Regions from separate parts of the Homo sapiens genome. Here region 2 is linked to region 1. The links come from fine-mapping of genetic effects on gene expression. Tissue or cell type: whole blood. Region 1 holds a variant in brackets; the other region holds the start of a gene. All regions are shown on one strand. Distances are from middle to middle.

Region 1 (5,383 bases):
GGGCGTCTGTAGCTGGAATTTAGGGGATTAGGAGTGATGTCTGGGAGGTGAGGCTGATGTGTCGTGAGTTGCATGGAGTATGAATGTGATGTGGAATTAACCTTCAAACAGCTTAGTCTAGTAGTGGAGTTACATTTTGTATGTAACTGTGGAAAGTGACACATGCACAGAGCCACAGATGATCCACGTGTTGCTAACACTGGGTGGTGTGGTTCATCCATGCCTCATAATGTCATGATTGATACTCTTTCTACACACACACACACACACACACACACACACACACGAGTTGTATTGCCCCTGAAAATGCTCCTCTTGGTCTGTTCTTCCTGCCGGTATGACAGAACTTCCTGAGATTGTTGAGTTTAGGGTTAAATCAAATCTGAGGTGACCCACTCGTTAGTTTGGTAGTGTTTCCCCATCGTTTTCCTGTTGCTAAGTGGTGCAGGAGTAGAAGCTGGTGCAATAGTTTCCTAGAGTGCGGTGCAGCTAACCCTTTTACGTACATCATATTGTTTAGAATTTGTTACCACCTTCAACCAATTCATATAAAAATAGATTACATGTGGGAGTTGTATTTGTTTGTGTGTGGTGTGCATCCAAGTCAGTGTTAATTTTAAGTGAGTGTCCTGCACTCTGGGTGTTTTTCGTAGCTACAAGGAAGCCTTAACCGTTGTTACTTACAATGGATTACTTTTCAAAAGTTGTTTAATCTCTTTCAGGTCATTAATGGCTTGGAGACTAATAAGCAAAACCATTAAATACTACTTTATGTCTGAAAAAAGAGTTAATGTTCCTGGAAAAAGCGAGCTGTTTTCTTTAGTTAACAAGGTGGAGCTGGTGTTCCCAGTGGTTCCGGTTCTAATAAGACTTGATGAGTTGGAAATGATGTTATTCTGGAGACAACTGTGGAGTAATTAGAATTTTACCTCATTTTAATTAAAAGATTCTAACTCTAACCTACCTTCCCAGGCATTTGGGAAAGGCACAGGTAGGTCTCCTTGCCAGTGAGGCTCCACTACTCACTTGTGGGGTTGACATCAGGAGAACCCAGGACTTGGGCCTTAGTGAGGTCTCACGTTCTCACCACTAAACAAAGAGAAAGCATTTATGCAGGCATCGAACCAGCGTCTGTGTGTCACAGCTGGACTGGTGCTGAAAAAATCACCAGGGCCTTAGCATAAAACAAAGGCTGCTTTATTATGTTGAGAGCATAAATAGGCTTCTTTTCTTTTTTCAGTCAGATATGAAATTAGAGTTGCTTACTGCTAACATGGAGCCTGCTGGATTGAGCTGTTTTGCTCACTTCTGCCAGATAATCAGAAGAGCCGGGTGGGGTCCCCTAGCTGGGTGACTGGGAGTCAGGCATCCATCCCCCGAACATCAGGCTCCCCATTTGTAAATGTCTTGTATTCCTGTCAAGATGGTTAGGAGGATTGAAAAACGCCGTTGTATTTTATTTGATTTTGATAATACACTTAACATGAGATCTAACCTCTTAACAAATTTTTAAGTGTATAATGCAGTATTGTTAGCTATAGTGTTCAAGTGCATTGGGAGGCGCTATCCAAATGCAACCCCTTCCCCGCCCTCACCCCCACCCCCCGTTTATTGCTACTTGTTATTTTCATGGTTGTGCTGAATTTTTCCCCAAGGCAAATCTTTACCTCTGCCCTTGAAGTTGCATATGCCCCAGAGTGGGTAATTATTAACTGTATTAATCTGGACCATATACTGTACAGTCTTTGGATAACCTGGACAGTTTATAATTTTAAATGTTTTAAAAGTTTGCAAGTCTGAAACTCTGAAAAAATTTTTTTTTTCATAAAAATACTAGCCTAGGCTGCTGATGGATGTGGGTTTCTTTTTGGGGTATGAAAATTAGATTGCGGTGATGTTTGCATAACTCTGTGAATATACTAAAAACCAGTGAACCATACTCTTTATAAAAAAATAGTGGATTTTATAGTATGCGAATTATTTCTCAAGCTGCTATTAGAAACAAAACACTGTCCTAATTGTTACTGTAAAAATACCCTTATTTTCTCCCCTCCCTGCCAGTGTCTTAGGCAGAGCAGCCATTCAGTAAATACAGGTGGCTGAGTGTTGAATAATATAGTTGAAATAATCCAAGTGGCACAAATAGATGAGAGTGGAAGTGGGGGCTGCAGTGTCAGTTGTAGAAATCTCACGGGAGGCAGACTCATGGGGTGGCTGAGACGGTGGCTCCTTTGTCAGTGGAGGCACTGGAGGAAGAAGACCCCACTAGCAGGAGAGGCTCTGGGTCGGAGGGGCTGCCATGATCCTGGAAACAGGTCATCTGGTTGGCTCGTGTTTGAAAGTTGAGAATACTAATATTTTATGGTCCAAATTTTGGTTACCTTGGCCTTGTAAATCAGGAAGCCGTCTGATGACAGGATGAGCCTAAGGTGGGGAGGGGAGGATGCGGTGAGCCACA[G/A]GTTCTCAATGTTCAGAGAGCCAGTGTCCTTAAATAGCGAGGTGAAGAGCTCAATTAGGAACCAAAGCCAAAAATGAGCTGAGGCAAGATGGTAGAACCCAGGCCTGGATCTGAGCAGTTGTCAAAAGTCTGGTTACAACATTTGAGAGTGTGGTGTTCAGCTACCTTTTTGGATTCAGTTTTAGTTTTTTATTTGCATATTCTTTTTCTTTTTGATAAAGCTCTATGAGGACTATGTTTTCAACTCCCTAGATGCATATAGTCCTGTACTCAGATATAATGTATCTAATCTCTTCCCAGATTTATAATTGCAAACCATAAGCCACTTTGAGTTGTGTTCCAGCACCTGCCGAAGGAGACGACTAAATGATATGAACCCCATTTTCCTCCTAAGAGGGCATTCAAATTCTCTTCCTCTTGGATTTTATGAAATCAGATTTCAGTTGGAAGATTCTGTCACTTGGCCTCTTATTGTCAAACACAGGTACCTTTTAACGCAGACTTCTACTGAGAAATAATTAGAGACAGGGTCTCATGGTCAGGCGCGGTGGCTCATGCCTGTTATCTCAGCACTTTGGGAGGCTGAGGCGAGCGGATCACCTGAGGTCGGGAGTTCACCACCAGCCTGACCAACATGGAGAAACCCCATCTCTACAAAAAATACAAAATTAGCCGGGCGTGGTGGCGCATGTCTGTAATCCCAGCAACTTGGGAGGCTGAGGCAGGAGAATTGCTTGAACCTGGGAGGCGAGGTTGCAGTGAGCCAAGATCGTGCCATTGCACTCCAGCCTGGGCAACAAGAGTGAAACTCTGTCTCAAAAAAAAGAAAAAAAAAAGAAAAGAGACGGGGTCTCATTCTGTCGCTCAGGCTGGAGTGCAGTAGCACAATCATGACTCACTGCAGCATTGAACTCGTGGGCTCAAGTGATCCTCCCGCCTTGGCCTCCCAAAGTGCTGGAATTACAGGCCACCCTACCTTGCTGAAATATTTAAATTCTGAAGGACCAAACTATCCCCTTCTCAAAGAACAATATGAACTAGCACCGTTATAAACTTGGTACTGCTGTAAGAGTCCTACTCCTGAGGGCTTCCACCCATCTTATTTTCATACTTATGAAAAATAATACATGTTCAAAGCAAATGAATCCAAACAGTATGCAATTAAAACTCAAACTCTCTTAGCCTAGACCCATTTCTCCCAGAGCGGCTGTTATGATCAGCCTCTGGGTGTCCTTCCAGAAATGTCTAGGCAGGTAATGTATACAATCACTTTAAAAGTTCAAATGGGAACATGTCATACACATTATTCTGTACTTTGCTTGTTTTAACTGACACGTATCTTGGATATTAAAAAAAAAATCTAACATATAGTTTCCATTTTTTAAGAAAAAAGCTTTATTGATATATAATTTGCCATAAATAATCACCATATAGTTTACCTTAAAATTCACTTGTTTTAAATGTACAATTCAGTGATTTCTAGTAAACTTACAGAGTTGTGCAGTGATCACCACAATCTAATTTTAGAATATTTTCATCACCCTGTGTCTATTTACAGCCACTCCACATCCCGTGCCCGCAGGCAAACACTTATCTATTTAGTTTCTATAGATTGATTTTATTACTCTTTTTAATAGCAACCTGTGGTCCATTTTGGAAAAATACAAACATGTATTTAATTGTGCTTTATCCAAGCACATTTAGCTTTTGCTGATGTTTTATTTTGCTGCCTGCCTACTTTAAAAAAAATTGGAAAAGATTGAAATTTTGTCTTTGAGCCATACTTGTTAAGAGTGATAAGGGAGTTTTAGCTGAAGTTGTTTGTAGATTTTCCAGTCATTACCTGTGGAACTAGGAGAAGAATTTTGGGGCCTGGATAATTATTTATATTTGAATAGAAACTGCCTGAGGTTGTTCTTGATTAGATGAAAGCCCCAGCATTTATTGTGTATTTTATGGATGTGGGTGAAGTGGAACTAAGTATTTACACATGATTGGGGTGAAGGGGGATTTATTATTTCAGTTTTTTGCCTTTGTCTCTACCTAGGAGGATTTTAGGAGCTGTTGAGTGTTCAGAAGTATGTCTTCGGATATATTCTCCATACTGTTTCTTGGGACCTTTTACTGGGTTGTGGATTTTGACCAAGTGTTTTTTTAAGAAGAACAAAGTAGTAGAACAGTATGAGACCAAAATGTCCTTCATGTTCTAATGGTGAGCACTGTTTTCTTTTTTTTTTTTTTTTTTTTTTTTTTTTGAGACAGAGTCTCGCTCTGTCGCCCAGGCTGGAGTGCAGTGGCGTGATCTCAGCTCACTGCAAGCTCTGCTTCCCGGGTTCCTGCCATTCTCCTGCCTCAGCCTCCTGAGTAGCTGGGACTACAGGTGCCCACCACCACGCCCGGCTAATTTTTTGTATTTTTAGTAGAGATGGGGTTTCACCGTGTTAGCCAGGATGGTCTCGATTTCCTGACCTTATGATCCACCCGTCTCGGCTTCCCAAAGTGCTGGGATTACAGGCGTGAGCCACCGCGCCCGGCCATTGTTTTCTTAAATGTCAACTTTTGTTTAAATGTGTGTGTGAGTGTGCTTGTTTTTTTTTTAACCTCAAAGACTGAAATTTTTTTTTTTAATTAATTAATTTATTTTTTATTATACTTTAAGTTTTAGGGTACATGTGCACATTGTGCAGGTTAGTTACATATGTATACATGTGCCATGCTGGTGCGCTGCACCCACTAACTCGTCATCTAGCATTAGGTATATCTCCCAATGCTATCCCTCCCCCCTCCCCCCACCCCACAACAGTCCCCAGAGTGTGATATTCCCCTTCCTGTGTCCATGTGATCTCATTGTTCACTTCCCACCTATGAGTGAGAATATGCGGTGTTTGGTTTTTTGTTCTTGTGATAGTTTACTGAGAATGATGA
Region 2 (5,383 bases), 33 kb before region 1:
GCCAGAGTGCATTTTCTATATGGCGCATTCTATCAGTTGGGATTGCATTTGGCTCCATCTAACAGAAAGCCAACTACAGTGGCCTTACAAAGTCAGGCATTTATTTTTTTCCAGTAAGAAGCAGGTCTCTGATGCCATGGATTCTTGGGTTCTTTCTGCCGTCCTTGGCTTGTGAATTTCTTCCTCGTGTTTGCAAAATGGCTATTGCCCCTCTAAGCAGGAATGGGAAGGGTGAAGGGCCAAGTAATGCTGCCAAGTCTGTCTTCTTTTTAAATGCTTTCTTGGAGATTCCAATTAGTACAGTTTGCTCACATCTCATTGGACATTAATGAGAGAGACCCACCTCCAGCTGCAAGGCAGTTTGAAGTGCCCAGTGTTTCAGCTGGGCACATTGCCACTCCAAACAATATTTAGGTTATCTTAGGAAGGAAAACAGGAAGGCTGTTTATCAGGTAGGCTATTTGCCATCTCTGCTGCATGTGAACTACTCTATAAGCTCTTCAAAAGATAAGACTTTTTTTCCTTTCAGCATACATAACAAGTTCATCACTATATAGTAAGTTAAACAGATACAAACAATAAATATTTGTAACGGACACTCACGTTCAAGTGCTATTTATTTGTCCACAAATTAGTACATTGAGAGATTGTCTCTCCAGATGTTTATTTCTATACAATAGATCTCAGCATCAGCTAGTCAAAAATTCTTTACCACATACAGAATTTTCTGCTGATGCCAAAATTTACCTTTATGTTACATTAAAAATTTTTTAAAAAATATTGCACCTTTTTGGGCTCAAGCAATCCTCTTGCCTTAGCCTCCTGAGTAGCTGGGTTTACAGGCAAACACCACCATGCCTGGTTTAAAATTACAATATTTATTAATTGCATGGTAGAATTAAAGGATGCAGAGATGACCAAAATAATCTTTGCCCACCTGGAACTTTTTTTTTTTTTTTTGAGATGGAGTCTCACTCTGTTGCCCATGCTGGAGTGCAGTGGCGTGATCTCAGTTCACTGCAACCTCTGCCTCCCGGGTTCATGCCATTCTCCTGCCTCAGCCTGCCGAGTAGCTGGGACTACAGGCGCCCGCCACCACACCTGGCTAATTTTTGGTATTTTTAGTAGAGATGGGGTTTCACCGTGTTAGCCAGGATGGTCTCGATCTCCTGACCTCGTGATCCGCCCGCCTCGGCCTCCCAAAGTGCTGGGATTACAGGCGTGAGCCACCGCGCCCGACAATTTTTGTATTTTTAGTAGACACAAGGTTTCACCATGTTGGCCAGGCTGGTCTCAAACTCCTGACCTCAAGTGATCCACCCGCCTTGGCCTCCCGGAGTGCTGGGATTACAGGCGTGAGCCACCGTGCCAGGCCTGTTTTTTGATTTTTTTAATAGGCCATTTTAAGGACTTTACCACCTGGAGCTTGTAACCTAATAGGACTGTGAAACATACACTGGTAGCATCCTGGCACCAGTGCTGGGGTGAGTGCCACAGGAGAGGAGCCAAGTGCAGTCAGAGTAGAAGGACTCAAATAGAAGAGATCACATCTGGTTGAGTCAAACAGTAAACGTCCCCAGAAGACACTGGAAGATGCAGGCTGGAGAGAGCTACACTTTACATACAGCACGACAGTATAGAGATATTAATAGCATACAGTCACTTCAGGTAACTACAAGTAATTTTAAAACATCTGAATAAGTGCTTCTTTGTTGTCTGTGGAGTGCTACACAATGCTTCGGCCTAAACGTCAAGCAACACAGAAAAGAAGCCCCACTTCATTTGCAGCCTCAGATAGCTTACGAAATTGAGACACCACCTGAAGACCATGACCCATACAATCAAAGTGACTTCATGGAAGACGAGTAACTGCAAAACCCTGTGAAAACAGATTGTTAACGCTACTAATGAAAAGAACTGGATTGTTACGGGAACCTCAAACTGTCCTTTGATCAACGGACATGACGCCTCAACACGCATTTTCCAAAGATCTCTGCTGATAATTCTGACCTTCGGTTAATTTAATTAATTTCATTTGATTTAATTCATTTTAGTGTTGTCCTCAGTCCCGCACTCAAAACAGATTTTTATTATATGAAAATCTTCCTAGTCACCTAAAAAATCCGCATTCTATGGAAAAGACTATATAATTTTTCAAGAGATTCTTTGCAATTTTCACCTATGCTGGTTTATGACCTAGTTAGAGAAGACATCATAGGGCATTATTTAGGTAATAAAATACAGAGAGAAAAGAGCCACTGGCATTTCTAAATAACGTTCCTGTGTTTCCTACTGTAAGTATAGGAAAGTAGGTGTTCGCAGATGCAGAGAAAGGGCATCTCCAAGGCCTCGGAGGAAACTTTTGATTTTATAAATAACTTGATGGTGGAAGGCAAACGCCATCCCGGTTCCCAAGCAGGCTCCACGCAGCCTCCATGGCCGAGTCCATCTCCTCGCCGTCCTCTTCCCTCCTCCCGGCCGACTTCCAGCCGGTGCGGGAGTCGGGGTGCGCCCGGCCCTCCTAGCGCTGCGCCGCCCGCGCCGACGTGGCGGAGCGCACAGGTCGACCGGGTCAGGTGGTTGGGTGACGCCCCAGGAAAGCGCTCCAGGCCGAGGGCGGGCGGCGCCGCCGCGCCCGACGCCTCTGGGGGTGGGGACTTCGCGGGAGTCGCCGGCGGAGGCGAGGAGGAGCTCTGCGCGGCGCGGCGGGCGATCCGAGCCGGGACGGGCTGCAGGCGGGGGTGCTGCAGAGGACACGAGGCGGCGGGCTGGAGACATGGACCGCGGCGAGCAAGGTGAGGGCGCGGACCCAGCGGGCTTGGGCTCGGGCTTGGACTCGGGCTTGGACTCGGGCTTTGGCTCGGCGCGGGGCTGAGCGCGGCCCGGCGGCTCGAGCAGGTGCCGAGCCTCCTGGGCCGGCGCCGCAAGTTGCATCTCCCGGATCCGGATCTGGCATCCTGGGGCCCTGGAAGGAGCGGCTCTGGCGGGGGCAGATGGGACTGCATGTGTGAGTGTGAGTGTGCGTGTGTGGGGGAGAGGGAGAGAAGGTTCTGGGAGGTGGCGAAGGGGCTAGCGTCAGGGGCTGGCGGCCGTGATGCGCTTTGGGTGGAAAGCCGCGTGAAGGGAGCACGGCGCAGCCAGCTCCTGTAAGTGACTGGAACCAGGAACAGAGGACAGTGAGTCGCTCTCGTCCCTCCAGGTGGGAAACCCCTCTCTCCCTCATAAATTAAGACTTTCTGCCTTCTTCTAAGTTCAGGTGGTTAGGATTTTTGGTGGCGTATGACCCATGGGGGGTTTGGGAGGCAGATATTTATCATACTAGAAACCCCCAGATTGTGGAGTGGTGTCTGTGGGTTTGAGGGAAGAGAGCTTTTCGTAGGAAGGGTGAAATCCCACAACACAAAACCTTCAGTCTAATTTACCATAGCGTTGGGTGCACTTGCTTCTGAAAACAGCTCAAGTGAAATTACCCCCAAATAGAGCAATAGTAGGCCATGGTTTTCAGATTTAAATAGTTTCATCCTAGAGATCTCTGCTGATCATAAGCCTGTGACTGTACGCAGATGTGTGTGGCACGCTTTTAAAAAGATACATAAATGCTGAAAAAAGAAAACAAGGTAGGTAATCTTGGGAAGTGAGGATAGGAATCACTCCTGTTTTGAGCCCTGACACAAGTTTTCATGTATTGCTTATTTTCCTCCAGTATGTGCCGTCATGTGTGCATTTTTATGTAAATCAAACCATATTCCAAATATACTATCTTGTACTTTATTTTTTTCAGACTCTGGTGTTTTTTTTGTTTGTTTTTTTGAGTCTCCACCTGTAGCCCAGGCTGGAGTGCAGTGGCGGGATCTCAGCTCACTGCAACCTCTGCCTCCCTGGTTCAAGTGATTCTCCTGCCTCAGCCTCCCAAGTAGCTGGGATTACAGGTGTGCGCCACCACAGCCCGGCTAATTTTGTATTTTTAGTAGAGACAGAGGTTTCTCCATGTTGACCAGGCTGGTCTCCAAGTCCTGACCTCAGGTGATCCACCCGCCTCAGCCTCCCAAAGTGCTGGGATTACAGGTGTGAGCCACTGGGCCAGGCCTGTACTTTACTTTCATTTACTTGTAAGATAGACTCTTTGGAGTCTTTCAGCTCTTTCCTCGCTCCCCTTCAGATTAATTTCAGACTTAACACAAGTGCTTACAAACATTACATACAATATGCTTTATATGTGTTACCTATGTGTATATATATATTATACATTACCTGTATAACGTATATATACACATACATATTATTATCTAAATTTTAAGCTTCTTGAGGTTAGAAACATTTCATCTTTGGTTGTCCTGAGTGGGATAACATGATGACTTGTACATAGTAGACATGCAAATGTTTGAGTTAGAAAGCTTGTCACATGTCTTGTATATATTGTTAGCCGGCTTAGGGGCCACCATGTAAGTCAGCATTATGTCTGTCTGGCTTTCAATGGGGGCGACGCAGGACGGGGGAGACATGACGACAAACGTGCCCATGTGTATTTGTATACTAATCTGTTACACACTGTCGTTTGACATAATGATGTTTTTAGAATAACTATGTTTGGTACTTGTCAAAGTAAATTAAACGGCTGTGTTTTACTTACGTGAGTGGAGTAACTAGTTTTAGTAGTGTTTGTGTTCTAGCTTGGGTGGTAAGAATCAACAGTCATTGGTAGCACTGCAGTATTCCAACTTCTTGTGTAGTTTTTATAGGACTAGTTTAAGTGTCTAATTCTAAGACATATTTTTTTCAAATCTTTATCTTGTAAGATGAGTCTTTTCGTGTCTATAATTTTCCCATATGTTCTTTGGGTGAGGTGGAGGACTCTGCTCCGAATGAAAGAAGAGGCACTGCCTTGGGAGGGTCAGTTCATTTACTCCAAAGCTTTGCTGTGTTAGAACAACGTGGCCAAGGCTGGGTGCGGTGGCTCACACCTGTAATCCCAGCACTTTGGGAAGCTGAGGCAGGCAGATCACTTGAGGCCAGGAGTTTGACCCCTGTCCAACAAGGTGGAACCCTGTCTCTACTAAAAATACAAAAATTAGCTCGGCGCGGTGGCACCGGCCTGTAGTCCCAGCTATTCAGGAGGCTGAGGCAGGAGAATCACTAGAAACTGGGAGGCAGAGGTTGCAGTGAGCTTAGATCAAACCACTGCACTCCAGCCTGGGCGACAGAGCGAGACTCTATCTCAAAAAACAAACAAACACAAAACAAAACCACCTGGCCATTCCTTACTCTTGCTTCCACCTGCCTACCTGCCTTTTCATCTTTATGTTACCAGTGCACACAGTAGGTGCTTAGAAATATGTGTTGACTGCCTAAGATGAGTGAGGAAAGTGTCCAAGAGCAGGCCCCA

Evidence for each region.
Region 2: TPD52 starts here. The variant in region 1 is fine-mapped to the expression of TPD52 in whole blood (TOPMed, PIP above 0.99). The same link has a PIP of 0.9 or more in blood mononuclear cells.

The regions. Positions count from the first base shown.
Region 1 is chr8:80,135,854-80,141,236 of GRCh38, reverse strand. All of the region lies in intron 1 of TPD52-MRPS28 (TPD52-MRPS28 readthrough), which reads left to right. The region is part of intron 1 of TPD52 (tumor protein D52); the gene reads left to right. Among named protein-coding and RNA genes, the nearest start is that of TPD52, 33 kb to the left of the region's middle. RefSeq lists an enhancer at 2,609-2,658. The variant G/A (reference allele first, on the strand shown) is at 2,459.
Region 2 is chr8:80,168,837-80,174,219 of GRCh38, reverse strand. TPD52 (tumor protein D52) reads left to right here and starts at 2,656. Exons shown (of 8, transcript NM_001025253.3): 1 at 2,656-2,795. The coding sequence starts at 2,777. TPD52-MRPS28 (TPD52-MRPS28 readthrough) reads left to right here and starts at 2,656. Exons shown (of 7, transcript NM_001387778.1): 1 at 2,656-2,795. The coding sequence starts at 2,777. RefSeq lists a silencer at 2,495-2,824.